Regions from separate parts of the Homo sapiens genome. Here region 1 is linked to region 2. A link means that fine-mapping ties the variant in region 2 to the expression of a gene that starts in the linked region. Tissue or cell type: whole blood. Region 2 holds a variant in brackets; the other region holds the start of a gene. All regions are shown on one strand. Distances are between the middles of the regions.

Evidence for each region. PIP is the estimated chance that this variant, and not a neighbour inherited with it, causes the effect.
Region 1: it holds the start of MDK, and the variant in region 2 is fine-mapped to the expression of MDK in whole blood (TOPMed, PIP above 0.99).

The regions. Positions count from the first base shown.
Region 1 is chr11:46,377,440-46,385,439 of GRCh38, reverse strand. MDK (midkine) reads right to left here and starts at 3,771. Exons shown (of 5, transcript NM_002391.6): 1 at 3,682-3,771; 2 at 3,307-3,383; 3 at 2,979-3,146; 4 at 2,692-2,853; 5 at 1,639-1,971. The coding sequence starts at 3,382. The coding sequence ends at 1,946. DGKZ (diacylglycerol kinase zeta) reads right to left here. Exons shown (of 31, transcript NM_001199267.2): 26 at 7,211-7,242; 27 at 6,940-6,983; 28 at 6,329-6,449; 29 at 6,204-6,237; 30 at 5,872-5,971; 31 at 4,889-5,609. The coding sequence ends at 5,493. It overlaps CHRM4 (cholinergic receptor muscarinic 4), which reads left to right. Exons shown (of 2, transcript NM_000741.5): 2 at 1-1,651. The coding sequence ends at 322. RefSeq lists silencers at 2,787-3,081, 3,057-3,106, 3,527-3,636, 4,067-4,266, 4,697-4,906 and an enhancer at 4,406-5,040.
Region 2 is chr11:46,339,160-46,347,159 of GRCh38, reverse strand. It overlaps a transcript of DGKZ not described here. Among named protein-coding and RNA genes, the nearest start is that of DGKZ, 4.3 kb to the left of the region's middle. RefSeq lists enhancers at 775-824, 895-964, 1,667-1,961, 1,905-2,014, 7,292-8,000. The variant G/C (reference allele first, on the strand shown) is at 3,094.

The DNA.
Region 1 (8,000 bases), 38 kb before region 2:
GGCCCGCAAGTTCGCCAGCATCGCTCGCAACCAGGTGCGCAAGAAGCGGCAGATGGCGGCCCGGGAGCGCAAAGTGACACGAACGATCTTTGCCATTCTGCTAGCCTTCATCCTCACCTGGACGCCCTACAACGTCATGGTCCTGGTGAACACCTTCTGCCAGAGCTGCATCCCTGACACGGTGTGGTCCATTGGCTACTGGCTCTGCTACGTCAACAGCACCATCAACCCTGCCTGCTATGCTCTGTGCAACGCCACCTTTAAAAAGACCTTCCGGCACCTGCTGCTGTGCCAGTATCGGAACATCGGCACTGCCAGGTAGGCAGGCAGGAGTGCCCTAGGAGGTGCTGGTGTTGCGTGCGTGTGCTGGGGGGACCACACGGCTCACTTGCTGTGGGGAAGAGTTGCAGGCACCATTCTGCGTTCACGTTTGCTGAGGAGGAAGTTCAGAAGAGGCTCTGTGGCTGCATTCAGAGACCAGATCTCTGCTCAGGCTGAGGAGGCTCACCCCAGGGAGTGTCTGAACTGGGGCTGCCTGGCCCACCTCTGTGGCCCTGCTTCAGCGAGCTGCGGGGCACTGGCCTGGGTGGGCACCTGCCCCACTGTGACCAACCATCAGCAGTGCTGGAAGAATGGACATCTGGATGGGGGCCGAAGCCCAGGGCCCCCTCAGGAAGAACAAAGGGGCCAGTGCTTGGAAAAGGAGGCTTGGGAAGGGAGTAGAAGGGTGGGGTCCCCCATTCTGCTGTAATCGGTGCTTTCTGCCCCCTTGCACCCCGCATGTAGGCTCAGCCCCCTCTCCCCAAATCCCACTCCAGGGGCAGAAATCTCCTCTGGCTGCAGCTACTTAGCCAGGTTCTGGGTGGGTATGATGGAGGCCAGGTCCCCCCCGCCCCAGCAGCACTGCCCTTGTCACATTAAGATGGGGCAGCTGGGAGGTCAGAGGTTCTGTCTCAGGAACTGAGGTCTGGCCTTCTGCGATCCCAGGCTGAGCCGTGAGTGGTCCACGTATTCAGAAGACAGCCCCCTGCAGCCCCGGCCTTAGAAGGCTGTCCCAGGTCACACATCGAGTCAGGGTGAGGCTGTGGTGGATGGCATTCCCATCTGCCCTCTTCAAACCTCTCACCCCCTGGCTTCTGCAGGGTGGAGGCCTGGGTCACACAGGCAAGAGGAAAGGGGTCAACCTGGTGGCTCACTCGGGTTTCCATGACAGTGGGAAGGGGGGAGGTGGGCAGTGAGGTAGGCACGCAGCCCTCGCATCTGCTCTCCCCCATGGGTAGAACCTTCCTGATTGGCTGTGGGTTGTATCAAAAGACCTTTGACTGGGTGAGGCTGAGATGGGTGTGGTGGTTCCAGTGAGTCAGCCAGGTTCCCTTCCCCAGCCCTGGTCCCTGAGGGAGATGAGGACCGAAAGGCTTAGGTGACTTGATGGGGAGCACCCTTTCAGGGGCCCTGGAAGAAATGTTTGTAATTGTTCTGCTTTTTCCATGAGCTCTGGAGAGCACCCACCACCAAGCCCCCTGAAACCCACCAGTCCCTACAGCCTGGTCTTTCTCCCCACCTTCCCACTCCCAAACACATTTCCACAGCAAACTCCTTGGGAAGGGGCTTTTATATATTAAAAAAGAAGAGCTTTTATTGGGGGGAAAAAGTCAGTTTATTTGATGTGTTTCTTAGTAATGGAATTGTGGGGAAGAACAAAAGCGGGCTCTGGGACTCACATTGCTTTGGGGGAGGCTCAAGCTTCCCAGAATCCCTTGTCCCTCCCCACTTTGGGCACTTAGGGGTGGGGCTGGGGAGTGAGAGGGACAAGGCAGGGCATGATTGATTAAAGCTAACGAGCAGACAGAAGGCACTGGTGGGTCACATCTCGGGCCTGGGAGAGGGAGGGCGTGGGCCAGGCCCCATGTGACACCAGGGGCTCCTTGGCATCCAGGCTTGGCGTCTAGTCCTTTCCCTTCCCTTTCTTGGCTGTAAAACAAGAAAGAAATATTAATACCATATCAGCAGTTAGGCTGACCCATTGCAGACCGCCGGCTCCACAAACACCCGGGCATCAGGGAAGGAGAAGATTCTGCCCCCTAGTGGTTTCCAATCAGCTGACTCGGAAGCAGGGGATGGGGCAGCCATTGTGATGTGGACATGGGACATCCCCAGCTTCCTATTTCCACTTGGGATCAGAAAACCTTCAAGTTTCCAGTCCTAGTCCTGGTCACAGCAGCCCTGGGCATCCTCAGCCTCCTCACCTGAGAAGCGGGCAGATTCACCCCTGCCCTGCTGGCCTCGCTGGGCTGAGTCACGAGTGAGCTGAGAGGCCCAGGGTGGGCCTTGACCTCCTCCCAACACTAGAAAGGGCAGAGCTGACCAAATGCTGCCCGTGGCTGGAGAGCTGACAAAGGCAAGCCGTTCCAGGACACTCTCCCTGGGTCCTAAGCCAGATGCTCCAATGGAGTAGTTTGAGTTGGTCCCTATTTGGGCCAGGGAGGATTTATGTCCCCAGCATCACCTGCGGCCTCTCTTGTAGTGCCCATCTTCAGACTTTTCCAGGCAGGGAAGCCAAGTGAGGCGATGTCAGGAAGCCACTGGCCAGGACTCAAAACTTAAGGTTTAACTTGGAATTGTCCCCTCACAGGCGGGGGGGGGGGGGGGCAGCCCCCCGCGACAGCCCCACCCCCTTCTCCTTTCGCTGACCTTTGGCCTTTGCTTTGGTCTTGGGGGTGCAGGGCTTGGTGACGCGGATGGTCTCCTGGCACTGAGCATTGTAGCGCGCCTTCTTCAGGGTGCCTTGGCGGACTTTGGTGCCTGTGCCCCCATCACACGCACCCCAGTTCTCAAACTTGTACTTGCAGTCGGCTGGCGAGAGAGCGGCCCAGGTCAGCGCTGCGCGGCCCGCGGCCCCGCCCTCCGCCAAGGGTCCGCCCAGGCTTCGGCGAGGCTGTGCCCCCCGTCTCCTGCCCTCTGACTGCGCCCCGCCTCACCTCCAAACTCCTTCTTCCAGTTGCAGGGCACCCTGCACCGGATGCGCTGGGTCTGGGCCCCGCAGGTGCCCTCGCGGAAACCCACGCCGCAATCCTTGCTGCTGGGGGTGCAGGGCCCCCAGGCCCACTCAGCGCACTCGCTCCCCGGGCCGCCCTTCTTCACCTTATCTACAACGCGCGAGGAACAGAGTTCAGGACTGGGGCACGGGGAGACTCCCTCGGGAGCCGCCTTCCTGGGGTTCCAGGCTAGGAACCCAGGCGGCCCAGCCCAGAAGTGGAGGGGCCTCGCCTGCCCGTCCCCAGCCCTCCTTCGATCATCCCCCATCACCTTTCTTTTTGGCGACCGCGGAGGTGAGCGCCAGCAGGGCGAGGAGGGTGAGGAGGAGGAAGCCTCGGTGCTGCATCCTGAGGGGAGAGCCCGAGTCTGAATCCCTGGCCCGTCCCCTTCCCCACCGGGGGCCGCGTGCAGGGCCCTCCCACCTCCGCGTGCTCCACTTTCCAGGCCCCAAGTCGGGCTGCTAAGGTGGCGGCGGTGGGAAGACTTGGGGCGGCCCCTCGCCGCTAGCCCGGACGCACCGCTAAGAGGCGACTCCCCGGGGGACGCCTCGAGCCCAGGACGCAGCTCAGACCCCCACCCCCGCCTCCAGCCCCCAGCCCCTAGATCGGCCGCGGCCGGGCGGACCAGGGGCCGCCGCGCGCTCACTCGCTCGCTGCCCGCGCTGCTTCGCTCCCTCCCGCGCCGGGCCCGTCCCGCTCCGGCCGCCGCGGCCCCTTTTGTCTCCAGAACCGGTCTGAGCCGGTCACATGGGCCCCCGCCCCCTCTCCCCACCCCCCCAGGGAAGGACCCGCCCCGCCCCCTCCCCTCAAACCCGCACCGCCCCCGACCCCGGCGTCCCCGCCCCCGCTCCAGCCCGCGCCCCCCGCGCTTCTACTCCGGCGTCCGTGTTCCCGGCCCCGCGTCCTCGCGTCTCCCCGCCGGTGCCCTCTGCGCTGCGACGGCGGCCTCTCCCGGCCCCATCTTCCGAGCGGTGGTCTCCCGACCCCGGGCCCCGTCCCGCCCGCGCACACCGGCCCCCGGCCCACTCCCTGCGCCGCCGCCCGCTGCCCCCATCCCAGGTCGTCCCCTGCCGTACGCCAAGGCCCGGGCCGTTCTCAGGCCTCAGCTTCTCTTGCCTGCCGCGGAGCCCCGGCGCCTGTATAACCCGCGGGACCCGCTCCCCTCCACGGCCGGCTCAGCCCTGGCGCCCTGCTGGCTGCTGGGGAGGGGGCGCGGCCCACCTGGGGCGGTTTCCGCGGGTGGGCAGGGAAGCGCTCTGCTGTGCTGGGGGGAGTCTGGGACCCGGTCGCCCAGAGAAAGCCACGGGTGCGGTCGCCCAGTGCCTTTCCGGGAGCACAGGCTTGAGGGACTGCGAGTGGGGGTCCTGGGGGAGGAGCCCGCAGGCCTGGATTTGGTGAAACTTGGCGCTGACAGGAGCCGTCTGAGAAGTTCCAGATCCAGCCACATCGGCAGCTGCAAGTGCCCACCCCCTCTAACCCTGGGCCTGTGGCATTGCCTCGCCCGGTTCCCCCAAACCGGGAGAGCCCCCGAGGCCTGGGGGAGGGGCTTGCTCAAGGCCACAGGGCAAATGGGCCACAGAACCCGGGCTCGCCCCCGCCCCACCCCTCTTTCACTTTCATTGTTGTTCTCCGCGGGAAGCGGGAAGCCGGAGGGATCGGCCCCGCCCCCGGCCCCGACGAGCGCGGCCGCCGGGCAGAGGTCAGGAACCGGGCAGGCCCTGGGACCAACCACCAAACGGGAGCCGGGGCCCCAGGAAGGTGCTGTCGACAGCGTCCAGTCCCCCACCCCGAGGACAACCCCGCAGCCCCCGCTGCTTGTTAGACCTCCCCCGCAAAAGAAGAAAAGCAGAAAAGAAAAAAAAATCCACTTTACTGAGTCACACCCAGCTGTAAACATGTCACCGTGAGAGTCCCGCCCCCCACCCCCAGGCCGCACAGTCCGCGATGAAATGACAGGGGAGCGGGGAGGGTCGCCGGAGCGGGTGCCAAGCAAGGCAGGGCAGGCAAGTGCAGCAGGCGCTGAGTTTCCGGGAGGAAGCCCGGAGGAGGTGGGGTGGGGCAGGAGCGGGGGCTGGGGACCCGGCCGAAGACCAGGGGGCCCAGGAAGCCTCTTCCCGAAGGCCTCCCCCTCTCCAGCCCCTCCACTCCTGGGAGGGCATCTGCTGCGGCCAGGGAGCGCCCTGCCCCAGAACCCCGGCAAAGGCATATCCAACCCAGCCGTGTCTTGTTCCCTGTGAGCCTCCGGGTCCGGCGGGGTCCTCAGGGGAACAGGTGAGGCCCCCCCAGCTCCTGAGTCCAGCCCTAGGTCTGGGCGGCTCCTTAGGGGGCGGCATGGGGCTCTTTCCCTGGGGCCTAGGTCCCCCCGTGGCCGTCCCACTGGAATGTGGCAGTGAGGTGGGCAAGGAAGGCGCTCGTCCCCTGGCCGCATTGTCCCTCCTGCTGCCCGTGGGCGGCCCGCTACACAGCCGTCTCCTGGTCCTCCCGCTGGATCATCTGGTAGTGCTGCCGGTTCTCCAGGTAGGCGGCCAGCTCGGTGTCCTGAGCCTTCTCAGCCCGCTGCCGGGGAGTGTCGCCCTGGAGGAGGGCGGAGCTGCGATCAGCAGGGGCCAGAGGCAGGCCTAACCCCTAGCAGGCTGAGAGGCAGGGGCTCTACCTCCCTGTGGCCTGGTCAGGGAGGGAGGCCTCTCTGCCCACCAGCTCCTCCCCTGCTGGCTCAGGTTTCCCAGGGTCTGGACTGTGTCTTCCCAGGGACAGCCCCCAGCCCCAGCTCCCGCCTAGGACCTTGGGAAAGGTTTGGTTGGTGCCCTCGTGGGCTCCCTGCCTGCCGTCTGCTCACCTGCTGGTCTGTCTTCATGAGCGAGGCCCCGGCCTCCACGATGTAGTGGCAGATGGTGCGCTGGCCCAGGGCCGCTGCTTGGTGCAAACAGGTCTCCCCGCTGGGGGAGCAGGGGCTGGCTGTGTACCCCATCCCGTCCCCTGATCCACCCATCTGTCTCCCAAGGGCCATCAGAAAGGGCAGGAAGTTCAGGGCTCTGGGGCAATAGGGGTGGCCCAGGGGATGACAGATGTGACCAGGAAGTTTATGGGCTCTGACCTGACAAAATGGGAGGGGTGGGGAAAAGGGTGGTTTCCGGGGTGACCACGGTTCTGCACTGCCCAGATACTTACTTTTCCTCCACCGCATCAAGGATCTCTGGGGGGGCTGGAGAAGGGGAGGTGGTGGTCAGAGAGGCCTGGCAGCCCCTCCTCCTCCCACCTTGGCCCCAGGCCCTGGGCTCCACTGCCCGGCTCACCGTGGTCCAGCAGGTAGCGGACCACATCCTTGCTGCCAGTGCTGACTGCGTGGTGCAGGAGCGTGCGACTCTGCTCGTCTCGGTGCATGAGGTCGCCCCCAGCTCGGTGCAGCTCCTGGAGCTGAGGGCAGGAGGCATGGCAGGGCTGGACCTCCTGGGGCCACCCCTCCTTCCCTGAGCTCACACGCTGGCCCACAGCCGGGTACACCAGCACAGGCCTGAAACGAGTGCGCTCACACATCTTACTCCTGAGTTGCCTCTGTGGGTCTCTCTGGAGCACACCGGAGGAGGGGCCTCTCACCCCACAGCCTGTGGGCTCTCTGGCAGCACTGGTGACCAAGCCCTGGAGCAGTGCTTCCTCTGACCTGCTCCTTTCTAAGCACCAGGGACAGGTGGACTGAGCTAGGAAGCCCCTACTAGGAGCCATCTATTGTGGCCTAGACAGAGATACAGTGAAGTGGAATGGGACGATCACTGGAGATCCCACAGAGGGCCAGACGATGACAGATGACAGCACCTGAGCAGGTCAGCTCTTGGCCCAACCCAGAGGCCTCGCTCCCCAGGGCCCGAGGGAGCTGCTGGGGGAAGGAACTGGAGCCTGGAGCTAGTACCTTACAGAAGTCGTTCCTCTTGGCAGCCTCAATCAGCTCTTCACCTGCACGGAATACCTGCCTGTTACTCTGCAGTCGGAGGCCTGGGCTTGGGTTGGTGCCTCAGTGGACAGGACTGTGCCGGCCAGGCATGTGTGCCCAGGGCTCCGTTGGTGCGTGAAGCTCAAAGGCTGTGTTTGTGTAAGGCTGTGTCTGGGCCCTATCCCCACCCCACTGAGCCTCCTGCCCCCAACCAGGCAGAAAGGAGGGGCCCCAGAGGGAGAGGCCTCACCTTGAGGGGGTGCAGCATCCCCTTGCAGTGACCTGCAACAGAGCATGATGTGCTGTGACCGGCTACGGCACAGGCCAGCTGGTCGCCCTCCCCAACCCCAACTGGGGGCATCTTCATCCTTTCCACAGTTTATTGAGTGCCTGCTACACACCAAGCACTATTCCAGGCACTGGGGATACAGCAGGGAAACGAGACAGAGGAAGGCCTTGCCCTCATGGAGCTTACATTCTAGTTCAGGGATACAAACAAGTCAAATAAATAAGGAGTTCTGAGAGCAGGGGTGCTCTTAAGAATTCAGAACAGGTGATGTGGCACCCCTGCAGAGGGGGTCCTGGGAGTGATCTCTCCAAGGAGGAAACAGCCAAGCTGAGATTCGAAGGGGATGGGGGTGGGGGAGCTCCGGAAAGATGGGGGAAGAGTTGGAGGCAGCGATGACAGAAGTCCAGTGGTGGCAAACACCTGATGCCTCAAAGAACCAAGAGAAGAGAGTGGGGCAGGACCATGGAGGTGAACTCAGGGAGGGGGCTGGGAGCCCAGTGCAATGACGGGGGGCCTGGGGAGAATCCACGTCCAAAGGGCTGCTGAGAAAGAAGCTTCTAGGTTGGGGAGTGGCCTGGTATGCTCTGCATTTTTAGTTGACCGTGGTATGGAGATGGGGGTTCGAGGGCACGAATGGCCACAGGGATATAAGAGCTGGGGGCCAGGGCGTGGCAGCCGGGAAGGGCTGGTGGCAGTAGGGGTGGGGAGGAGTGCTCAGGTGGTGGGTCCGGGGGCTGCCAGGACTGGCTGA
Region 2 (8,000 bases):
TGCACGCTCACAAGTGTACACTCGCGAGGGCTGCTGTCACCACCTCCCCTCCGCTCTCGCACACCCTACTCATAGCCACTCACAATCTCCACCCATACCTCCTTGGCTCCCCCAAATCGCACCCAGGGGAACAAAAGTCACACAGTGCTCCCCATGCACGCAGAACAAACACATCCCTTACACAATTATGCCCACTCATTACTTAAACGAACACTTCCCACCCCAGCCTCTCGCACTCAGTGACCAAAGTCACTTAATGACTCGCACACACACCAACAAAGAACTCACAAGTTTCTCCTACAAAGTCATCCTTCCACAGCTATTCACAATGGTTTCCAACCTTCTCACCCAGGCCCAACACATCGCATTTTCCTGACATAGTATTCAACAGAACCTATAGATCTCATATGCTACGGGAATCACCTGCACAGCCCTTACACACTCACAAATACACAGAAGGACAACAGGTACCACACTCCCATTCACAAGCACACATGCCCACACAGAACACACACCTTTCTCCTACATACAAATACTCCCAGGACAATGGTTACCGGTTGCCACATCCCTCACACATATGTATGTGTGTGCATATGCACACACTCCCATCCAGAAATATACCTCACATGCACACACAAAGACACCCCACAATGCAGCCGAGGCCGTCCCCCTCCAGAAATGAGAGCAATTGGAACCCAAGCAGTCACCTGTAGGGGCACAGCCATCACACACACCGGGGCTGTTTCTGATGGCCCCCGCAGGGCTGACGAAGGGAGGCCAGGAGCTGGGAAGCATGGTCTTCCACCTCCCCAAACCCTACCACCCTGCTGCCCACACCAGCTGCCCACTACTTCTGTGTGCACGCCTCTCTGCCAAGCCACATCCTGTGTCACCTTCGCTTTCATCCTCCCCTCTTGGGTTCTGGCAGCCCGTTTTCCAGCCTTAGTCAGCCGCAAATAGCCAATGCTTAGGGCTGTGACCTGCGGACAAGCCTGTGATTTTGAGGAAGAACCAGCACCCCGAGGCCCAGAACCCTCTCCCAGTTTCCTGCAAGTTGGGAGAAGGTCTGATCAGGGAGGTGGGGCTCCAGCCCTCCAGCCAGCAGCTGGTGCCAGGGTGGCCAGGAGGAGGGCAGATCAATCCCCAAGTATGCCTGACAACTGGCCTCTGGGGTGCATGGGTCCTTTTGGGGAAGTTTCCCAATGGCTCTTACTCCAAGCTCTGAGAGAAGAGATCAGAGGCAACTGAAGACCCCACGGAGTCTCCACAAGGCCTTGCAGCTGGGTCAGAAATCTCCAGCATCCAGTGCCACACTCCTGGGGGGGCTCCTCTTCCCAGATCCCCCCACTGCTAGCTTGCTCAACTCCTGGCCTCTCTCGAGCTCAGTTCCTCCACACAGTCCAAACATCAGAGCTCCCTGCACCCTGCCAATAACTCCTTTGCCCTACTCTGTGCCTCTGCAGAGTGCTGGATGACAGATGGGTGACCCTACTTCTGTCACCCCCATCTCAGATAAAAGGCTCATAGAGGGACAGAGGTCCCATGCCCACTCCCAGGCCACCCCTTGTACCTACTGTGTCTGGGGTGCCTCTGATGGGATCTGTGGCACGTCCCAGGAGCGGTAGCGCCACATCTGCCTCAGTGACCCCGGCCGCTCCCCTTCTTCCGTCCCCAGCGCCTCCACTGGGCCCAGAGCTGAGGATTCATTGCAGCTTCCCCCGGCACTGTGGCCAGCCCCCGGTGCGCTCATCCTGCCCGGCGACTCTCTTCCTCTTTCGGCACTTCCTGACGGGGGTGGGGTCGAGGGGGGGGCCTGCTAGAGGCCGCTGGCCGCCCAAGCTGAGGACCACAGGCTCAGGGCTCATAGGCGCCTTCCGCTGGCTGGGGCCAGCTGCCGTGAAGAGCTGCACAAGAAAGCAAGGGGCAGGTGGGGACAAGCCCAGACCAGCAGCCAGGAGGCAGCCATGGGGCTTGCTTGGGCTGGAATCTGCACCTGGGCTCCTGTCTGGTTTTCCTCTCCATTTAAACTGTCTGATTTTCAACTCTTGGTCCTGCTGAGGTCTCCCGCTTTATGACAACCACCAGGTACAATGGCTGGGTGTGCCCAGCCCTCAAAGAGCGCTCTCTTCCTAGCACTTCTGTGTGCAGCATACCATCTTACACAGGGCTGGGCATACAGGAAGGTGGTGTAGAGAAATGAGCAATGAGGATGGAGCCTGGAGACATGAGCATGTGTCCTGTTCTGCCTCTTACCAGCTCTGTGTGGCCTGGATCAGGTCATAAACCTCTCGGAGTCCTCTAAATAACTTTTGGGACAAGGTAGCCTATAAACAAATAAACTAATGAATACATGTGCCAGGGAGATTTTCTGAGCCTCAGTTTTCTCATCTGTAAAGTGGAGTAATAGGCCAGGCATGGTGGCTCACACCTGTAATCCCAACACTTTGGGAGGCCGAGGTGGGCAGATCACCTGAGCTCAGGAGTTTGAGACCAGTCTGGCCAACATGGTGAAACCCCATTTCTACTAAAAATACAAAAATTAGCCCGGCGTGGTGGCAGGTGCCTGTAATCACAGCTACTTGGGAGGCTGAGGCAGGAGAATCGCTTGAACCTGGGAGGTGGAGGTTGTGATGAGCCGAGTTCGCGCCACTGCACTCCAGCCTGGGTGACAAGAGTGAGACACTGTCTCCAAAAAAAAAAAAAAAAAATTGAGCTCATGGTGTTATCTGAGGAATAAAGAAGAGATAGGAAGGTTGACAAATTAATTCATTCAATAAATACTTATTGAATGCCTTCTGTGCATCAGGCACCGTATCGGAGAACATAGCTCTAAAAACAAGGAAGCAGGGCTCTGTCCTCACAGAGCTTAGATTCTAGTGGGGAAGACATTCAGGAAACAAACAATCTATGTACAATATAATGTCAGCAAACAAGATGTGCCATAAAGATTGGGAGGCTGAGGCTGGTGGGTTACTTGAGGTCAGGAGTTTGAGACTAGCCTGGCCAACATGGTGAAACCCCCTGTCTACTAAAAGTACAAAAACTAGCTGGGTGTGGTGGTGGACATCCGTAATCCCAGCTACTCTGGAGGCT[G/C]AGGCAGGAGAATCGTTTGAATTCGGGAGGCGGAGTTTGCAGTAAGCTGAAATCACACCACTGCACTCTAGCCTGGGCAACAGAATGAGACTCTGTCTAAAAAAAAAAAAAGATGTGCTATAAAGAAAAATGAAGCCAAAGGAAGGGAGAAGAGTGATGAGAGTGACTTAGGCAGGGGGAGGGGATCAGGGAGGGCCTCTCTGGGGAGGTGATATTTGAGAGCAGACCTGAATGAATGGGGAGCGTGAGCTATGTGACTTACCTGGGAGAATAGCATTCTAGGTGGAAGTAGAGTCAGAGCAAAGGCATGGAACAAAGAATGTATTTGTGTCTGGAGAATTGCAAAAAGGCCAGCATGGCCAGAGAACAGGGAGCCAGGGGGAATGCGTTAGGAGCTGGAAAGATCTCCAGAGGCCAAACTGTGCTGGAGTTCAAGGCCATTGTGAGGATTTGGTAAATAAATACTAGGGCATATATTCACTCTTTATTCTTAGGACTGGTTCTAGGAAGGAAACTGTACCTTCCTCAAGCATTCTTTAATCGCCCTGCTCTATAACTAGTTCTTTAGTTGTATATGTGTTTGTTACTGTGAATTTCTTGAGGACAGAAACAGCATCAGTTCAGTTCAGTAAACATTTATGCTACAGAACCCTTCAAGATGCTATCCCGACCCTTAAAAACCTCCATCTGGTGCTGTAATCACCTTTGTGTCCCTCATGATGGGAACATAATATTTTTCAGTAAATATTTGTTTAATAAATGCATGCTATGCAATTAATAATTAATACTCAGTAATCATAAAACAATGGCTAATAGTTCCTGAACATTTCTGTGCCAAAAATCTTACTGAATATGTAACGTAGCTCTTTGAATCCTCTTAATGACTCTAGGAGGTAGATCTTGTTATTTTCCTCCTTTTTTTGCTTTTTTTTTGTTTTTTTTTGAGACTGAGCCTCACTCTGTCACCCAGGCTGGAGTGTAGTGGCGTGATCTCTGCTTACTACATCCTCTGCCTCCCAGGTTCAAGCGATTCTTGTGCCTCAACCCCCAGAGTAGCTTGGATCACAGGCGTGCGCTACCATGCCCAGCTAATTTTTGTATTTTTAGTAGAGACGGAGTTTCACCATGTTGACCAGGCTGGTCTTGAATTCCTGACCTCAAGTGATCTGCCCGCCTTGGCCTCCCAAAGTCCTGGGATTACAGGCATGAGCCACCGCACCTGGCCTTATTTTCCTCCTTTTACAGATGGGGAAATCAAGGCACAGGGCTGCTAAGCTTACCTGTCTAAGGTCACCCAGCTGGTAAGTGGTAGAAGTGAGAATCTAGCCCCAGAATCTGTGCTCTTAAATAAAACATCCTATTGCTGCTCTAAGGTAGGGGATATGGCCATGTAATGCCCCCAAGGCTCAGTCCCCACTTTTCCACGTTTCCTCTCCAACCCATTATCTCTGAATGCCTCAAGATGGGTTCTATATGCTGTGGCCTCATCGGAGACTGTGTCCACCAGACCAAGGTCTATTCTGGAAGGAGGCTGTGCAGGGCCCTGCCTTCCTCTTGCAGGCATTTTGCAAGTAGCTCGAGCAGTTAAACAGAGGAAATGGGGCTGGGCTTGTTTTCCATCTGAGGCGTCTGGCAGCCCTGGAGCTGCAGAGAGCAGGAAATGGGGCTCCTGGAGGGGAAGCAGGCAGGCTGGAGGCTTCAAGAAGCAGGGCAGTCCTGACTGTGAGACTAGGGCCACCTTGAACTTGCACTCCTTGGCGCTGTCAATGTCATCTCTGCTTTCCAGGTGGGGTGGGGAGGACACGGCTGGAAGGGACAGGTGCATGGGACTATGGAGGATGCCCTTGGCAGTTCCTAGGACAACATGTGCCAGCCCTGGGAAGCTGGGGACCCCTCAGAATCCACCCAGGTACACACAGGAAGAAGAATCTGGGTAAGAAAATTATTCTGGGCTTTGTTGAGGCCCCAGAGGTTGGTGTTCTACTTTCTGTGGCCTGGATGAGCAAGTGGGAGCTGGGGAAAAGAAATGTACCAGGGCAACAAACACTCAACCCACGACCTGGACATCCTCTGCTGTCAAAACCCGCCCAGCCAGCCTCCTTGGCCTGACCTTCGCGGCTCCTTACGTTCTCTGGCTGTTCTTGCTTTTCCGCCTCTTTGTCCAGGCTTTCCCTGCAGAGATTTTCTCTCAGCTCATGCCATGCTAGTGCCTGCCTCATAGTAGGTGCTAAATGAACCTCCCCTCCTCCCCCTTTTCGCATTCCCTTCACATGTGGCCCTAACCCCTGCCATTCCCTTTGCCTATGTTGCACTCCTAGGTTGTCTTCCCTGAGTATTTGGCCAATCACATTCTCCATCCTTCAGACCCAGCCCAAGCAGCAAAAGTGGGAAGGTAGAAAGAGCCGCAGACATGGAGTCCATTGGTTCACACTCCAGCCCTTGCTGTGTGACTGTGGGCCAGTCATTACCCTCTCTGGGTTGGACCAGATGATTTCTAAGATCTGCTCTAGATCTGACAGTTCCATTTGAATCTTCTTTCCTGATTTCCAAGTTTTTGGTCATTCATTCCTTCATTCATTTGTACGACAAATATTTCATAAATATCTACCAAGTGTCAAACACTTCTCCTGAACTGGCATTCCACCCCACCTGCTGATCCCTTACCTATGATGCTCACTTTTGTTCCCAATGATATTCCTGTATCATCTGACTTTTTGTGCACTTAGTCTTGCTTCCTTACAAAATTCTTGAACCTTATGTTGCTCCTAGCTCAGTGCTGGGTACATGAGTTTGTGCTCAGTGACTTCCTATGGAAGTTGCCATGGGTTGAATACAGGTGTTCAGAAGGCTGGGCAGAGGGAGGGAGGGAGACTGGCTTCTTGTTTGCCTAAGTGGCCATGGTGAGACATGGAGAGTTTGGAGACAGAGCCTTGCTCTGTTGCCCTGGCTGGAGTGCAGTGGCATGATCTCAGCTCACTGCAACCTCCGCCTCTCAGGTTCAAGCGATTCTCCTGCCTCAGCCTCCTAAGTAGCTGGGATTACAAGTATGTCCCACCACACCTGGCAATTTTTGTATTTTTAGTAGAGACAGGGTTTCGCCATGTTGCCCAGGCTGGTCTCATACTCCTGGCCTCAAGTGATTGGCCCGCCCTGGCCTTCCAACATTCTGGGATTACAGGCGTGAGCCACCATGCCTGTCCTACAAGGATTTTGAAGTTTAAGTGCATGCCTCCCCATTAGCTATGCCTGTGATCTGGGCACCTGCTGAAGCCTTTGGGAGCAACCCAGAGCCTGGGATCACCTGCTGATCACTGGCCCCTGCTGAAGTGCTGGGCCTCTGCCCCCACAGAGGAGACAGATGTGTCTGAGCTGGGTTGCAGGTGCTGCTGGCTAGTGACAGATGGACATTTGACTAGGTTCCTTTTGGGTAGCTTCACGAAAGTCATGAGCAGGAGGAAACCTGGAGGAGGGGCTGGAGACCCTCTCCTGCTGAGGCAAGAGAGCTGCAGGCACAGCACTGGCGGCCCAGCAGCCAAAGGTGGTCCTTCAAACCACCATGTCTCTTGAAAGCTGTCCTTTGGCACCTCCCAATTTCCTGGATTGGAGGTGAGAGAGGAGCCTGCACAGCTCTCCCCTTAGTCTGGGTCAGCTGCATCTGCTCAAAAGTTTCCATCTGTCCCCACCCTGGACTACACCAAGCCCCCACGACACGGTCAGTGTGTCTCCTGCCTTCCAAGCCTCCCACTCACATCTGTAGGGTCATAAGCCCTGATTGCATAGCTACCTTTCAGCCCCCTTACTACCTATCCTATTACCACACCCAGAGATATGTACACTTTGTACAGAGCCAAAAGCAAGATCCTCAAGGATGAAAGTCTAGGCCTTTGCAAGCCTGACAGAGTAAAAAGGGCTTTGGAGAGAAACAGATCTCAGTCTGGATCCTGGCTCCACCAGTTACTGGCTCTGTGATCTCAACACATTGCTTAACTTCTGCCAACCTTAGCTCCTCATTTGTAAGCTGCGGCCCAGTGGCCTCCAAAGCACTGCCTACTCTGCAATCTCTGATTAGCCTTTTCCAGGCATCTATAGGCCGAGAGCCCTTGTCAGTCACACTGGAGCCCTGCAGAAGCCTAGAGTCCAGTCCCAGTTCCTTCCCCACCCTCTTTGTATGTCATTGAAGAGAGGTTTTCTCCAGTTGGTACTAACCCTTGTCCCTGGCACCCTGGACCTTGGAGGGGCCTTTCTGAAAACTCTGAAAGGCACCAACTGAGGCAAAAATGAGACTCCACTCCAGGCTTCCCCATGCTTGGCCCACAGGCCACCATCTCAGCAGGCCACCAAATAAGTTCTTCAAATGCCATTGATCAAACTGGCCTTCCCAGGTTCCCTCCAAAATGCCCAAGTGGCTGTGCCCCTTGGTGCGGGGACTGGGGGACATGGGCTGCTGGGGGCACGTCCCAAGCTCCTTGTGCCAAAATGAGGTCAGATAAGACCCTCTCCTGGGATCCCGATCCCTGCACGTTGGCCTCTGGGACAGTGTGGCACTGCCCTCTCTGGCCTTTGACTCACTGATCAGCAAGAACTGCAGGTCCCTGAGGGGAGGGAAGGAGTTCCGGGCTGGGCCTGGGCCCCGCCCTTTTCAAAGGAAAGAAAATTGATGGACCCCAGGCTTCCTCTGGCCGTGGTCCCCTCCCCCTGCTCAGCTCAGCTCTCTGCCCCTGGTTTTGCATTGTTAATTCAGGACAGAATGTGATCTCTGGCAGCTCCTTGCTTTATCCTGTTGCTATTTAAATTACAAATCGGCCCCATCTCCCTGTCACTCTTGGGTTATTTTTAGCTTCTGGTAAATAGCCGCAGGGAGAGTTGGATCAGGTGCCCCTCCCTTGAGGAGTCGTGGACCCGCAGCA